Linked DNA regions of Homo sapiens: region 2 is linked to region 1. The links come from fine-mapping of genetic effects on gene expression. Tissue or cell type: whole blood. Region 1 holds a variant in brackets; the other region holds the start of a gene. All regions are shown on one strand. Distances are between the middles of the regions.

The links. PIP is the estimated chance that this variant, and not a neighbour inherited with it, causes the effect.
Region 2: LINC01237 starts here. The variant in region 1 is fine-mapped to the expression of LINC01237 in whole blood (INTERVAL, PIP 0.99).

Annotation. Positions count from the first base shown.
Region 1 is chr2:241,563,385-241,571,556 of GRCh38, forward strand. It overlaps BOK (BCL2 family apoptosis regulator BOK), which reads left to right. Exons shown (of 5, transcript NM_032515.5): 4 at 6,741-6,904. Among named protein-coding and RNA genes, the nearest start is that of BOK-AS1, 8.3 kb to the left of the region's middle. RefSeq lists an enhancer at 6,672-7,296. The variant C/T (reference allele first, on the strand shown) is at 4,634.
Region 2 is chr2:241,877,748-241,885,919 of GRCh38, forward strand. It overlaps LINC01237 (long intergenic non-protein coding RNA 1237), which reads left to right and starts at 3,616. Exons shown (of 4, transcript NR_110220.1): 1 at 3,616-3,731; 2 at 4,813-4,888. LOC105373978 (a long non-coding RNA gene) reads right to left here and starts at 3,580. Exons shown (of 3, transcript XR_924077.3): 1 at 3,368-3,580; 2 at 3,122-3,270; 3 at 1,287-1,529. RefSeq lists an enhancer at 3,046-3,636.

The sequences.
Region 1 (8,172 bases):
AGCTGCCCCTGGGTGTGGCAGGCGCTGGGTGCTGCTGTTGGGGTGAGTGGTGCGCCGGCCCTGATGTGGCACCTCCCTGATTGGCACATTCCTCAGCTGTTTTCCAAGTGCTGTCCAGGTGCTGGGCACAGCTCTGGGCCAGTGAACCCCGGGGTGCGCAGGATTCCCTGAAGCTTGGAGGAGGGGCATGCTGTTCCCCTGGGGCAGTTTTTTGGAAGACCCCTGACAGCAGGGAGGCCTTGCACACCCTTGTCTGGGAGCTGGTGTGGGTCCGTGGCCAGTCAGCTGTGTGACTGTGGCCTGCTGTCATCTCTGTGGCCTCAGCTGCCTTGTCTCCAGGCAGTCCTGACAGCAGCAGGAGCCAGGCATCAGGCGCCAGAGGAAGCCACACCCTCGCTGTGGGAGATGCATCCCACGCCACGGGGTGACCCTCAGAGCCAGGGGTCTTCAGATGGCCTCGGGACCTCCACCCACCGGAGGGCAAGGGGAAGAGGCCAGGAGTGTGAGGACCACTGCCTCTCGCTCAGGCAGACCCCACCTTTGTGGGGTGTCCTCCAGCTCCTCTCCCAGACGTCTCCTCCGACCCCTGGTGGGCCAGCCAGATGGGGACAGAGCGGGGCTGACACCCTCGGCTGGAGGCCAAGGCGGCGGGGGCTGCGAGCATTTTCTGACAGAATCCGGCCTCTCCAGTGCCACGCTTGCTCACTGCTGACCTCCCTGGACAGAAGTTACTGTGGCTGGGATGCAGCGGCGACCTGGCAGGCTGCTGGAGCGGGAAGGCTGAGTCCAGGGATGGGAGTCCAGGCGGGGTCTGGTCCTGCCTCCGGGCTTGTCTTGTTGCCACAGCATGTGCTGGAGTGCCTCAGACCACACCTGGGGAGGGGCAGTGACCTCAGGCTGTGGTGTGGGGTCAGGAGGCGGAACCAAGCTGGGTGCGGGCGAGACTCCCTGTCTGGCGCTCCTGGGGTGGCCTCAGAGCCTGGACTCTGTCACTGCTCCTGTGTTCCTTTGGGAGATCGTAAATGAATCCTCATTGGCAGTTTGGCTCCAAGGCCCCCACGTGGCAGCTGAGGGTGGGGGGCCGGGCCCAGGCCAGGCTGAGGCGTGTCATGGGGCAGACCTGAGTCGGCTGGGGGTGCATATGGGTAGGGGCTGGGGAGTGGGCAGGTGGTGTGGCTCAGGGGCCGGGTGGGCAGGGGGCAGGGTTCACGGCACAGTGGGCAGCGGAAGCATGGTGGCAGGAGCTGGCAAGCTGGTGCCCGCCCCTCCTGCCGCCAGGGTGACCCAGGCAGGCACGGGGCAGGCAGTGGGTGGGGCCCCGGAAGGAAGCCAGGGGTGGAAGGCATCCTGGGCTGACGACCACTCTCAGCCCTCCCTTGGCCGACGCCGGCGCGTGGGTGGCCACCCGGGTGTCTGTCTCGGGGCCGCTGGGTTTACGAGCTGCAGGCTGGCTTTAAAAGGAACAGTCATTTCTGAGAATGCAGCAGCCTGCCCAGAGGTGGGGCGCCTCCCCCTTCGGCAGGGAGAGAGGATGGGGCCAGGATGCCCCTACCCGCCCGGCCTTGCTTGAGCAGGGCCTGGCCTGAGGTGGGGGCGGTGCCTAGGAAGGCTCTGGTTGGTTCTGGGAGGGCACCTGGGGGCCAGGGAGGGCTGAGGGGAAGGGGATGGCTGGACGAGCGGGCACACAGCTGACGGGGAATGTGGGCGGCACCGGCCAGGTGGCCCGGGCTATGTGTAGAGTTCAGTTTAAGTCTTGTTTTCACTGGAAAACCGGAGCCCACTCCCCTGTGGTCAGCATCCCCCACCCCACCCAGCGCCCCAGGCTTGTCCCACGCAGGCCCGGCTCTGGCCATGTGGCAGCCCCCACACCCCCACCTGCTGCTACTCTGAGGCGGCCCTGCCCGAGGGGAGCCACGCAGGTTGAAGCCCAAGAGCCTCGTGACCTGCAACGGGTTTCTGAACCTCCCTGAACCAGAGCCACCTGACTAGGGAGCTAGGGCAGGGCCGCCCCTTCTGCCCCTCAGGCCCACTGGCAGTTGCACCCCCAGCCCCCTTCACCTTTGTCCATCCCAGTCCTCTTGGGCCCTTTTGTCTACAGGGCGAGCCTCCAGCCTCCAAGTGCTTTACACATCCTTGCCTCCCTGCCTGAGGCCCCTCCCACGCCAGCCATCCCTGCACGCTCTGACCCCCGGTCTTCCTCCCTCTCCTCCTCTTAGCAGGCGCCCTTGAGGGTGTGCGCCCTGCCCAGCCCCTCCACTGCAGGCAAGCTGCACAGCCCGCACCTCAGGGCTGGGGCCTTGGCTAGTGTTGTGAGCCGTGTGAGGGCTGCAGGGCAGGGCTCCGTGGGGGTCTCCAAGTCTCCAGCCCCAGGAGACTCCCACGAAGGCAGAGGCCAACAAATGTTGTTTCTGGCTGTTTTCATTTAGGGCTTCAAAGTTCCTGCTCAGGACTTTGGAAAAACTCATCTCCAAAGTGGTAGAACTCAATTTTCCTCCCCATTTAAAAGTTGGCAATAGTGTTTATTTTTTTCTTTGAATTTGAATTGTATTTTCTATAAATACATATGTAATTTTATATAATTCTTCTAATTATAGTTTTATTATAAGAAAAATAAAAATGGCTGGGTGCAGTGACTCACGCCTGTAATCCCAGCACTTTGGGAGGCCGAGGTGGGTGGATCACCTGAGGTCGGGAGTTTGAGACCAGCCTGACCAAAAAGAAGAAACCCTGTCTCTAATAAAAATACAAAATTGGCCAGGTTTGGTGGCACATGCCTGTAATCTCAGCTACTCGGGAGGCTGAGACAGGAGAATCGCTTGAACCCGGGAGGCGCAGGTTGCGGTGAGCCGAGATTGTGCCACTGCTCTCCAGCCTGGGTGACAGAGGCAGACCCTATTCTTTCTTTTTTTTCTTTTTTCTTTTTTTTTTTTGAGATGGAGTTTCACTCTTGTTGCCCAGGCTGGAGGTGCAATGGTGCGATCTCGGCTCACTGCAACCTCCATTTCCTGGGTTCAAGCAGTTCTCCTGCCTCAGCCTCTCGAGTAGCTGGGATTACAGGTATGTGCCACCACGCCTAGCTAATTTTTGTATTGTTAGTATTATTTATATTATTAGCAGACAGAGTTTCACCATGTCAACCAGGCTGGTCTCGAACTCCTGACCTCAGGTGATCCACCCACTTCGGCCTCCCACAGTGCTGGGAAAAAACACAAATCAGACCATGTCACTTCCCTGCATAAAGTTCTCGTGTTGCTGTGACTTCCCGTGTCTTTCAAAGTAAACCTAAGTTTGAATTCCCAGCTGAGCTGGCCCCTGGCAGACTCCAGCCCTTTTCCTGCCACCTCAACCTGTGAAATACGCCAGACACAAAATGAACAAGCCGTGTGATTACACTTATGTGAAATTTTCAGGGTAGGTAAATCTACAGAGACAGAAAGTAAGATGAGTGGCTGCCAGGGGCTGTCGGTGAAATAGGGAGTGACTGCTAGTGGGCATGGGGTTTCTCGTGGGATGATGAAAATGTTCTAGAATTAGATAGAGGTGATGGTTGCACAGCTTTGTGAATATGCTCAAAGATATCCCACTTTTAAAAGATTAATTTTATGGTAATGGAATTATATCAGTTAAAAAGACACAGAAGAGCTGGAAGGACACAGTGGACGCCGAGGCTGGTGCCTCCGGACTCCTGTCTTCCTGTCTTTCTTTCCCATCCACCCCTCTGGAGTGGAAATGTTGCCATCACTCGGAACATAGTATGTTCTTTTTTTTTTTTTTAATTTTTGCTCTTTTGCCGAGGCTGGAATGAAGAGTTGTGATCTTGCAACCTCCGCCACCCGGGTTCAAGCGATTCTCCTGCTTCACCCTCCTGAGTAGCTGGGATTACAGGCACCCGCCACCATGCTTGGCTAATGTTTGTATTTTTAGTAGAGATGGGGTTTCACCATGTTGGCCAGGCTGATCTTGAACTCCTGACCTCAGGTGATCCGTCTGCCTCAGCCTCCCCAAGTGCTAGGATTATAGGCATGAGCCACCGCACCCAGCGTGGAATGCACTGTTCTGATGGAACCGGACACCTCAGAACAGGTTGTCCCGCAAGCCACACGCAGTGCTGACATCAGGCTCCGCTCCCCGCATGGCCGTGCCCTTGAAGGAGGAACAGCCCCACGTGCTGGGGAAGTGCAGCGGGTAGAGCAGGGGCTGTGCCGGGTGTGCGCATCCCACCAATGACAAGGGCACCTTCGAGGTTGGGGTGGCAGGAAAAGGGCTGGAGTCTGCCAGGGGCCAGCTCAGCTGGGAATTCAAACTTGGGTTTACTTTGAAGGACACGGGAAGTCACAGCAACACGAGAGCTTTATGCAGGGGAGTGACATGGTCTGAGTTGTGTTTTTCCCCATTTCTTTTAATTGACGTTAAACTCACATGACATAATTATCCACTTAAAAGTGTGCAATTCAGCAGCATCTGCCACATTCCCAGTGTGGAGCAGCCACCAGCTACTAGTCTCAGGAGGTCTTTATCACCCCAGAATGCCTGTGCCCGTGGCCGCCACCGCCATTCCCCACCCCTCGCCCACTGCCAGCCGTGAGCCTGCGTCCCAGCTCTGTCCCTGACTGTTGTGGACATTTTGCATCCA[C/T]GGACTCACACTGTATGTGGCTTTTTATGCCTGGCAGCTTCCACCCAAGCATGTGTTTTTGAGGCCCATCCATGCCCAGCCTGCCTCAGAGCCCCATGCCTTCTTTTATTTATTTATTATTTATTTATTTTTTCACTCTATTGCCCAGGCTAGAGTGCAATGGCGTGATCTCGGCTCACTGCAAGCTCCGCCTCCTGGGTTCACACCATTCTCCTGCCTCAGCCTCCCGAGTAGCTGGGACTACAGGCACCAGCCGCCATGCCCGGCTAATTTTTTGTGTTTTTAGTAGAGATGGGGTTTCACCGTTTTAGCCAGGATGGTTTCGATCTCCTGACCTCGTGATCCACCTGCCTCGGCCTCCCAAAATGCTGGGATTACAGGCGTGAGCCACCGCGCCCAGCCATTTATTTATTTTTTTGAGATAGAATCTTGCTCTGTCTCCCAGGCTGGAGTACAGTGGTGCGATCTGGGCTCACTGAAACCTCCACCTCCTGGGTTCAAGTGATTGCCCTGCCTCAGCCTCCCGAGTAGCTGGGATTACAGGCGCCCACCACCATATCCGGCTAATTTTTGTATTTTTAGTAGAGATGGGGTTTCACCATGTTGGCCGGGCTGGTCTTGAACTCCTGACCTCAGGTGATCTGCCCACCTCGGCCTTCCAAGGTGCTGGGATTATAGGCGTGAGCCACTGTGCCCAGCCTGCCTTCTGTGGCTGAGTAACATCCACCACATTTGTATCCATTTATCTGTTGAAGGATACTTGGGTTCTTTCCACCTTTTGGCAATTGTGAATTGGCTGCTGTGAATGTCTGTGACTGAGTGTTTGTTTGAGCTGATTTATGTTTTCATAACAAATCCAGGTTGGCCGCTGTATGAGGGTGGATTGGAGAGCAGTGCTTCATCTTTGCATGTACAGTGTCCTCAGGCTAACTCCCTCCAGGGACCACTGCTGACTCCCTCCGGGGACCGCTGCTAACTCCCTGCGGGGATCACTGCTGGGCTGCATGTTTTGTGGCCATTCAGATACTGCCAGTGCCCTCAAGCTGGGCTTCCCACCAAGGTTTACAAGGCTGTGCAGTGGCCTGAATCCTCACACTGCCATTTAAAAGCATGTATTTATTTATTTATTTAGAGACGGGGTCTCGCTCTGTCGCCCAGGCTGGAGTGTACTGGCGCGATCTCAGCTCACTGCAACCTCCGCCTCCCCGGGTTCAAGTGATTCTCCTGCTTCAGCCTCCCGAGTAGCTGGGATTATAGGCGCGTGCCACCACGCCTGGCTAATTTTTTGTGTATTTTTAGTAGAGACGGTTTCACCATGTTGGTCAGGCTGCTCTTGAACTCCCAACCTTGTGATCTGCCCGCCTCGGCCTCCCAAAGTGCTGGGATTCCAGGCGTGAGCCACCGCGCCTGGCGTAAAAGCTTTTAATGCAACAGATTACATTTTGTTTTAATTTGCCTTTCTTTGGTTATTAATGAAGGTAAACATTTTTCGTGTCTCTTATTATAATTTTCTTTTGTGAATCAGCTGTTCCAGTTCTGTGCTCATAGTTCTTTTTTGAAAGCCTCTCTTTTCTCGCTCACGTATAAGACGTCTTTCCGTGTTGAGGCGTCGTGTCCTGCCTTTTATTCTTTCCCCCGCTGTCACCATCTTTCGTCCTCTCTTTCAAGGCTGCTCCCATCTCAGTTCAGCCTCAGCAGGTTAGGGGTCTGGGGAAGGCAGTTTCTCTGCGGGCCTCAGCTTCTTTATGTGTAAAATGTGGACGCCAGGCCTGTTGTGGGAACAGGCAGCCCAGGGGTGCCACCCGTGAGGTCACTGGCTGCTCACTCCATCTGCTGCTGCCCTCAGTTCCCTCGCCTCACCCCACGTTGTCCCTGCGGCCTCCTGCACAGACGTGGGCTGGGCAGGTGTGCAGTGGAGGCCGAGAAACCTGCCTGCCCAAGAACTACCTGACAGGCATCCTGTCAGGGAGCGGTCCCCCCTTGGGACGGTCCCTGGTCATTAGCTGGACGGCAAGCAGGACAGCGGCTCAGAGAGGCCCAGCCCCTTCCTTAAGTGCTCCCGTGGGCGGGATTCAAGTCCTGATCTTGACCATCTCTCTCCCTGCAGGCATCACGTGGGGCAAGGTGGTGTCCCTGTATGCGGTGGCCGCGGGGCTGGCCGTGGACTGTGTGAGGCAGGCCCAGCCTGCCATGGTCCACGCCCTCGTGGACTGCCTGGGGGAGTTCGTGCGCAAGACCCTGGCAACCTGGCTGCGGAGACGCGGCGGATGGGTGAGCGCCTGAGTGCCCGTGTGGGTGGGAGAGCTGGGGTGCGAGGGTGCAGAGGTACAGGAGGGAGTGGTGGATGGGTGAGCCTCTGAGCGCCTGGGGGGTGGGAGAGCTGGGGTGCGAGGGTACAGACGTACGGGAGGGAGTGGCGGATGGGTGAGTGTCTGAGCGCCTGGGGGGTGGGAGAGCTGGGGTGCGAGGGTGCAGAGGTACGGGAGGGAGTGGCGGATGGGTGAGCCTCTGAGCGCCTGGGGGGTGGGAGAGCTGGGGTGCGAGGGTACAGACGTACGGGAGGGAGTGGCGGATGGGTGAGTGTCTGAGCGCCTGTGGGGGTGGGAGAGCTGGGGTGCGAGGGTGCAGAGGTACAGGAGGGAGTGGTGGATGGGTGAGCCTCTGAGCGCCTGGGGGGTGGGAGAGCTGGGGTGCGAGGGTACAGACGTACGGGAGGGAGTGGCGGATGGGTGAGTGTCTGAGCGCCTGTGGGGGTGGGAGAGCTGGGGTGCGAGGGTGCAGAGGTACAGGAGGGAGTGGTGGATGGGTGAGCCTCTGAGCGCCTGGGGGGTGGGAGAGCTGGGGTGCGAGGGTACAGACGTACGGGAGGGAGTGGCGGATGGGTGAGTGTCTGAGCGCCTGTGGGGGTGGGAGAGCTGGGGTGCGAGGGTGCAGAGGTACAGGAGGGAGTGGCGGATGGGTGAGTGTCTGAGCGCCTGTGGGGGTGGGAGAGCTGGGGTGCGAGGGTGCAGAGGTACGGGAGGGAGTGGCGGATGGGTGGTCACCTGAGCACTCCTGGGGGAGATGGGTGAGGCAGGGGGTGGGGCAAGGGCCGAGACCTACAGGCAGGCCCTGGACTCTCCTCTGCCCAGATCCAGCACTGACTTACCCCCGATCCTACCCCTGTGCTAAGGACCCGCTGCCCCAGCCCCCGCCCTCCCGAGTGGGAAAAGCAAGGCCCCGAGGGGTGGGTGTCAGAGCCAAACCCTTCCTCTGTCTCCACGCCCCCAACTTCCTGCCCTGCTCCGGCCAGACCGCAGTTGCCGCTGGGCCCTGGGTGTGGAGGGTGGCTCCCCTGCCGAGAGTCTAGCCTTCTTTCCTGTACAGCGGGTGTTGGCCTGGTGTGTAAATCAGCGGCCAGGGGTGACAGCGCTCAGACCCCTCTGCTGGGGCCTTAGCTTTAGCATCTCGAGAGATTGAGGTCACGTGGTCTGCGGGGGCTGTGGTCTCCTCTGAAGGCTGAATTGGGGGTGCAGAGGGCAATGTCCCAAGATGTCGCA
Region 2 (8,172 bases), 310 kb after region 1:
CTCCCCACCCCCTTCCCACCCCCTTCCTGGTCCTTCTTTCCTACCCCTCCCCCGACCCTCCTTTCTCGGTCCTCCCAGCCCCCTCCCCGTCCCTCTCCCCTCCTCGTGTACCTGTCCAGCGCCCCTCTTTCTCTCTTCCCCTCCCCTCCCCTTCCTCTTTCCCCCTTCCCCCTTCCGGCCCCCCCAACCTGTCCCTCTCTCTGCTCCCCTCCCTCTCCTGGCCGCCCCCCAACCCCATCCCTCTCCTCGCTCCCCTCCCTCTCCCGGCCCCCCCACCCCCATCCCTCTCCTCCCTCCCCTCCCTCTCCTGGCCGCCCCCCCCACCCCTTCCCTCTCTCCTCGCTCCCCTCCCTCTCCCGGCCCCCCCACCCCATCCCTCTCCTCGCTCCCCTCCCTCTCCCGGCCCACTCCGCGCTGTCCTGCGGCGCCCCCGTGTGGCCGCTGTGGGGGAAGAGCAGACCTTGTTGTCGAGGGAGGCCTGGGAGGGCGTGGATCTCTGGGGCCGCTCCCTTGCCCTCATTGCTGTTGAACTGCTTCTCGGCTTAATCAGATGAGTTGTTAAAACTACCCATCATCAGCATTGTTACCATTGGTTTCATTAGTAATTGTATTTATTTAATTAATTGTTACATTCACTAGTAAAAATGGGAGCTAAGGCAATGCGTGCACTCACCGCTGTGAAGGCAAATGCGGTACTGTGAGTGCTGAATGCACCGCCATGGTCGCGGGAAAGCCCAGGCACAGACACTAGCTCAAAAGCCAAGGGTAGGCCTGGGGTTCACATGCCAAGCAGCAAGCTGAACTCTCACCCTGAGCCCACACCTGAGCCCTCATCTGAGGCTGCACCTGAGCCCACACCTGAGCTCTCATCTGAGGCTGCACCTGAGCCCACACCTGAGCCCTCATCTGAGGTTGCACCTGAGCCCTCCCCTGAGCTCTCGTCTGAGGCTGCACCTGAGCCCACACCTGAGCTCTCGTCTGAGGCTGCACCTGATCCCACACCTGAGCTCTCGTCTGAGGCTGCACCTGAGCCCACACCTGAGCTCTCATCTGAGGTTGCACCTGGGCCCACACTGGAACTTTAACCTGAGCTTACACCTGAGGCTGCACCTAAGCCCTCACCCGAGACTACACCTGAGGCTGCACCTGGGCCCACACCTGAATCCACACTGGAACTTTAACCTGAGCCTACATCTGAGCTCTTGCCTGAGTCTCCTATATGGTTGGAGTGGCCAGGTTGGGCCTAATTAAATATGAGGTAGCAGTAACGACTTTAGGCAACTGAGTTATTAGTAGAGATATTTAATATCAAAGTCAAAGAAGATGAAGGGCAGACACATTTTTAATGTAATTGCTATTAGTTCAGCCAAAGTTGAGGGGACTCAAAGTGTGAATACTTTTCTGACTTAAGGTACATTTCCTAGTGATGGGGGTCAGCTCATCCAGGGTCACATGTGGTTCCTGCTGAAACCAAGTCTGGGGTTCCCTGGGAGGGTCTGGCGAGAACTCTGACAGCAGCTCCCATCACCCTGTGGTGGATAAAGCGAATGCCTCTCTAAGTGTCTGGGGGTGGGGTAGGGTCTGTGCTGATTTATGTAGCTACCTGTTGCAGGGTTGGGTTAGGATCAGGTTGGTTACCCTGGACCCTGGGTATTCAGGTGGACAGGCGGGCCTTGGCCTTGGACAATGGCTAGCTAGGGTGGGCTAGAGCTGCTTCACCCGCAGCTTTGGCGAGGGGAGCGGGAGGCCAGGGAAGTCCCCAGGAGGAGTGGCCACGCTGTGATCCGGGCCCCGGGCTGGCTGGTAGGTGGAGGGTCACACCACCTGGGCCTCAGTGAGGTCCTAGCTGGAGCAGAGGTTCGGGGATCTCCTTCCCTTTCCTTCTGGGGCCTGGGACTTTGTACCTCTGTACAGGAGAGGCAGCAGAGGGCTGGGGTCCTGGCGATGCCTCCACTCTGCCTCCCAGCCTTTGGGGAATGTCTCCACCTGTTATGGCAAGTGTCCCTGTTTGCCTGGGACTTTGGGGGCTAAATTGGAGGCCTTTCTCTTTTTCCCCAAGTTCTCCAGCACACTTAGAAGCATCCGCCCACCCAGCTACACCCCTAAATTTTTCCCTTGATGCCCAGGGCCAGGCATCCTATGGCCATTTGATTACAGATGTCTGCAGGTGGCAATCTGAGTGCCTGTATGCTACTCCTGTGGGCAGCTAGCACCCTGGTACCCCTGGGAACAGAGCGTGAATGCCTTTAAAGCTAGTTGGAGCAGAGAACCAATTCCAGACACCCAGAGACATTTAGATAACTCATTACTAGGGTCCTGGCCCTGGGATCACTCCCAGGACTAGTTCTGTGTCTGTCCAGGTGTGATCCAGGAGTGCAGTGACGGATGTGGATGTGGGATTGGCACAGGACTTCCGCCAGCAGAAGAAAGGAAGGGAGGGGAGGGGAAGAGAGGGCAGGGGAGCAGAGCGGAGGAGAGAGGGGAGCAGTCTTTCCAGCTGGGGCTGGCCTAGGCTGCTGGGTCATTTGGGAAGAAAAGGTGATTTGGACTCAGGGAGACTGAGGGTGCCCTCGGGCCAGCATCTGAGGAGAGTGACAGGGGTTTCCTGGCTCCACAGCCCCAGGTGGCCTTGGTGGGTGCAGGCAGAAAATGACCTTTTCAAGTCCAGTTCCAACCCAGAGGGGGTTCCTAGACCCAGCGCCAATCAAGGGGCACCAGGGAGGCAGCAGAGGTTCCCGCAAATCCAGAGCAGAGTGGCTGCCAGACACCCCACATCCTCTTCGCAGCAGACTGAAGGCCACCCCACACTTGGAGGAGCCCGGGTGAAGCATCTGGGGAAGACCCTCAGCCCTGGGAGAGTCCCTCCAGGGGTGAGCAGGTGGGCTGCCCCTCAGGGTGCGGCTCATTTCGATGTAAGTTTTATAAAATAAGAAAAGGCGCCCTATAGCACCCCTTTGGGAGCCTCGTGTCACCTCCAAACATATACCTCGCTTCCAGGTCAGAAGTAGTGAAATGACCATTGCCAATGCAAATGGAACTGCCTTAGGACACATGGGGGAGGTTAGGGCCTGCTGTGGGGCCTTATGGTGGGCCCCGAGGGGCCCCGCACACCTGTGCTCACCTCCCAGGTCATCGCTGGGCCGCCTCTGTCCCCTGGGAGGCTCTGCCTCGGGGAGCCCTCTTCCCAAGCTCCCAGCAATGACTTCCAGGCCTCCCTCAGCATCAAGAGGAGCCACGTCTTCTTCTTGTGACCCAGCAGTATAATTCACCCTAAATAATGGCAGAATGGGTTGTGTGTAGTCTTTAAAAGTCAAAACAATTTTGCACACAACAGGAGTCATTCAGCAGTGGCTAACACTCTCCTGACCTGTGTCGGCGCTGGGCTCCAAGGTGTACCTCCGCACGCATGGGGTTAACTACGCCCCCATGACCATTCCCTGCAGGAGGGGCGGGACAGAGGACTGCGTTATGTTTCTCCTAAAAGAAAATCATGAAAGTCACACACTCCAGGTGCCACACTTATTATGGAGGGAGGGAAAGCAGATGAGCGGGCGGGAAAACTAGCGGGCTTGCCACGCCCAGGCAGCGCTGCTCGGGTTTCCGCTTCCTCCGCCCCTTCCTTTTTCTCTGTGCATCCTCAGTGACGCGGGGCACAGCTCTGCCCGGGGGCCTACCAGAGCCCACCTGGACCCCACACTGGGTCAGCCCTGGTGCGGAGGAGGCCGCTGTAGGTGGGCACGGGGCAGCACGCGTTAAGGGGCTGGACGGGGGGTGGCCATGCGTGTGAGGGCGCTGAGCAGGGGCGTGCCCATACGTGTGAGGGGGCTGGGTAGGGGCGTGGCCCAGCGTGTGTGTGTGTGTGTGTGTGTGTGTGTGTGTGTGTGTGTGTGTGTGGCTGGACAGGGGTGTGGCCACGCGCGAGGGGGCCGTGCAGGGGGCGTGGCCACGAGCGAGGAGACTAAGGGGCGTGGTCACGCGTGTGAGGGGCTGGGCTAGAGGAGTGGCCCTGTGTGCGGGGGCTGGACGGGGGCGTGGTCATGTGCGAGGAGGCTGAACAGGGGGCGTGACCACGTGTGGAAGGGGGCTGATCGGAGGTGTGGCCACATGTAAGGGGGCTGGGCAGGGGGTGTGGCCACGTGTGAGGGGGGGCTGGGCCGGGGCGTGGCCACACGTGTGCTGGCTCTGCTGTGGGCTTCCTTCCCTTCCTGTGCAGGTGGTGGTGCCCTCTGCGCCTTCACTGGGGCCCAGCCAAGTAACTGAATCCAGCCAGGAGCAAGGGCAGACGCTGGCACAGGTCCTGCCACTGTCCCCAACCTGGGTTTCAACACAGCTGAGGCCTGGCATAGTCTTTCTGGGCGCCTCTGGCTGGCTCGGTCTGAAAGGTGGGACAGATGCAACTGGGGCCTCCCCGGGTGCAGCGTGGGTGGCTCCTGGCTGGGGAAGTGAGAAGCCCTCCGTGCGGTGTCTCTGAAGCAGCCCCAGGCCAAGGCTGTGGCGTGCTTGGTGGTGCTGTAGGCCCAAGATGTTTATGGGTCGAGGGTCCCCGGGGCCGGGATTCTGATCCCTGGTGAGAGGTGGCTGGGAGGAAGTCCAGACGTGTCCTGAGTGGCCATTCCTCACACTGAGGTGACACCGCCTCTCCAAACACGTGACGTGGCTGGAAGCAGATGCTGCTGTCCGGTTCTCCCTCCTCTCCGTCCCTGGCTGGGACATGTGGATCTCACCCGCAGCCACTTTCTTCTGGCCTCTGTCCCCCTGCCTGGGACACGTGGACCTCACCCCCAGTCTCCTTCTCTCCTCTGCCCCCCGCAGGCGCGGCCAGGTCACAGTCGGCACCAGAAGTTTGGCAGATCTCAGTGAGGCGTTAGTTTGCATTTCCTTGTGACGGGTGAGTTGAACACCCTTTCATGAGTGTATTGATCACTGTGTACCTTCTTTGTTGAAATGTCGTCAGTATTTAAAGTCACAAATCTTCCTCTAAGACTATGCTACAATTTTTGTGTAATATTTTGATGGATATTTGAAATAAGTGCTAATTTTCTTTGGATTTCTTCTTTGACCCATGCTTTATTTAGAAGAATCTCTTTATGTGTGTATTTATTTTTTAAACCCTCTATTCTGAGAAGCATATTTAGAAGAGTATTGCCCACTTTCCAAATATGTGGAGAGTCTAAAAGGAATCTTGCTATTACTGATTTAATTCCATTTTGATCAAGGAACAAACTGCAGGATCTCACTTTTTAAAATTACAGAGACTTATTCTTACTGTTTAACATAAGCCCTATCTTTGTAAATGCTCCGTATACACTCAAAAATTACTTGTGTTCTGCAGCTGTGGGGTGGGATGCTCGCCAAGAGTTAATGAGGTGCAGCTGGTTGACAGTGCTCTTTAAACCGGCGAATCCTTCCTGTCCCACCCGCTGTGCTTGCAGTCCCGAGAGAGCTGTTACATCTCCAACTAGGACAGTGAATTTCTCTATTCTTTCAGTTCCGTCCGTTTTTACTTCGTGTTTTTTGAAACTGTTATTATCTTTTTAGGCATTTAGGATTTTTCTGTGATCCTGACAGTGGCTGACCATGGTGTCATCATGGAATGTCCCTCTTTATCTTCAGGGGTGCTACCTGGTCTAATGTGAGTGTTCCAGGGCTATTTTCTTATGCACAGAATTGGCACTGTGTATCTTTTCCTTTTTCTATTCTTTTTTCTTTTTTTTTTCTTTTTCAGACAGAGTCTTGCTCCATTGCCCAAGCTGGAGTGCAGTGGCGCGATCTTGGCTCGCTGCAAGCTCCACCTCTCGGGTTCACGCCATTCTCCTGCCTTAGCCTCCCGAGTAGCTGGGACCACAGGCACCCGCCACCACGCCTGGCTAATTTTTTTGTATTTTTTTTAGTAGAGACGGGGTTTCACCGTGTTAGCCAGGATGGTCTTTATATCCTGACGTTGTGATCCTGCCCACCTTGGCCTCCCAAAGTGCTGGGATTACAGGCATGAGCCACCGTGCCTGGCCACTTTTTTCCTTTTTTTTTTTTTTTTTGAGACAGGGTCTCACTCTGTTGCCCGGGCTGGAGTGCAGTGGTGCCATCTTGGCTCACCACAGCCTCGACCTCCTGGGCTCAAGTGATCCTTCCACCTCAGCCTCCAGAGTAGCTGAGACCACAGGTGTGCACCACCACACCAGGCTAATTTTTTTTTTGTATTTTTCAAACTCCTTTTTTTTTTTTTTGAGATGGAGTTTCACTCTTGTTGCCCAGGCTGGAGTGCAGTGGCGCGATCTTGGCTCGCTGCAACCTCTGCCTCCTGGGTTCAGGCAATTCTCCTGCCTCAGCCTCTCCAGTAGCTGGGATTACAGGCACAAACCACCATGCCTGGCTAATTTTTTTCGTATTTTTAGTAGAGACAGGGTTTCACCGTGTTGGCCAGGCTGGTCTGGAACTCTTGACCTCAGGTGATCTGCCTGCCTCAGCCTCCCAAAGTGCTTGGATTACAGGTCAAACTCTAAGACTCAAGTGATCCTCACTCTTGTGCCTACCACAATGCTGGGACCACTCCTGGACCACTGTGGATCTTTTTCTATCCTTTAGACACCCAACCTGTCTTTGTATCTTACGTGGGTGTCTGTAGATGGAGTTGGGTCTTGGTGACAATCCCTGCTTTGCACATGGAGTTTCTCCATTTGCAATTCCAGTAATGATTGATGAGGTTGCTGTAGATCCCCCATCTTGCTACTTGTTTTCTAAGTGTCTTATCTTGTCATTTGTTTTTTATTTGTCATTTTTTTGTTCCTTTGTTCCTCCATTCCTGCCTTTTTTGGGTTAATTGAAATTTTTTAGTACTTCGTTTTACACCTCTGTTGGTCTTTTAGCTGTGCCTCTTGGTATTACCATTTTTAGTAGTTACCCTAAAGACAACAAAATGAATCCTTAATTTATCAGCCTATTCACCTCACACAAAATGTGGGAAACTTGTAACGGTGTAATTCCTCTAACCCTGTTCTTCCTGTTACAGTTGCCATATGTTTAACCTCTACCTACATTACAAACTCCGTAACACAATGCTACTTTTGCTTTAGACAATCTTTTGAATAAATTAAAGTTAACTTTTTAAGAAATTAACTGTCAGTTGGGTGTGGTGGCTCATGTTTGTGATGCCCAAATTTTAGGAGGCAGAGGCAGGAGGATTGCTTGAACTTAGGAGTTCGAGACTGCTTTCGGAAACACAGTGATACCTCGTCTATTAAAAAGAAAGCAAACTAGCCGAGCATGGTGGTGTGCACCTGTAGTTTCAGCTGCTCGGGAGGCTGAGGCAGGGGGATCCCTGGAGCCCAGGAGGTTGAGGCCGCTGTGAGCCATGGTCACTTTCCTCCCCATCTCCCCTGTCCGGCATCCACACAGCTCCTTCTCTGTTGTCCCAGGCCAACCCCAGCCCTGGTGCTATGCCCTCCTCTCACTGCGCCCTTGTTTCCCCGAGCTCTGCCTCCTATGGTGGCAGAGTGGGAGGGGGAGGGTGGGAAGCATGGCTCACAGTTGGCTCCATCACAGTGGCCCTGTATTTGTCCAGTTTCACAGCCATTTGCTGGAGGAACGCAGGTCCAGCACTGGCTACCCTGTCACGGCAGGGGTGACCTCTTACCAGCCTAGCAGCCCAGAGGCGCCCCAGGTGGGGAGGTGGCAGGTGGACACCGGGTCCCGTGTGTTGTGGCAGTGAAGCCTGCAGCCCACCAGAGCTCCAACAGCAGAGAAACAGGCTGTGAGTGTAAGCGTGGAATTGCTGTGAGCCATGGCGCCAGCAGCATGTGCTGCAGAGACAGCTAATCAATTAGCCCCTCCGTGCTGGGTGCTGTGTGTGCACCATTAAAGAGCTCACGGGGAGAGAAATGCAGACTCCTCTGGGGGCCCCAGGGTGGATTGCACCACTCAGCATGTTCTATTGAGTGCCTTTCCCTGCAGTGCGTGCTTTCTGAGGCTGTAATTTTGAGTGTGTCTTTCAAGGCTGCAGCCCTTAAGCAGTACAGCCTGGGTGTTCAGCTGGATAATCCTGTAAGTGAAGTTTGAGTGGTTTAACTGCCTACAGCAGGTGGGAGCTCGGGTGGTGGGGAGCATCTGGGGTTTCGAGGAGTCTGAGCCTCTGTGCAGGGCTGCAGGCTGTGGACGGGTTACGCGGGTGCTGGTCTT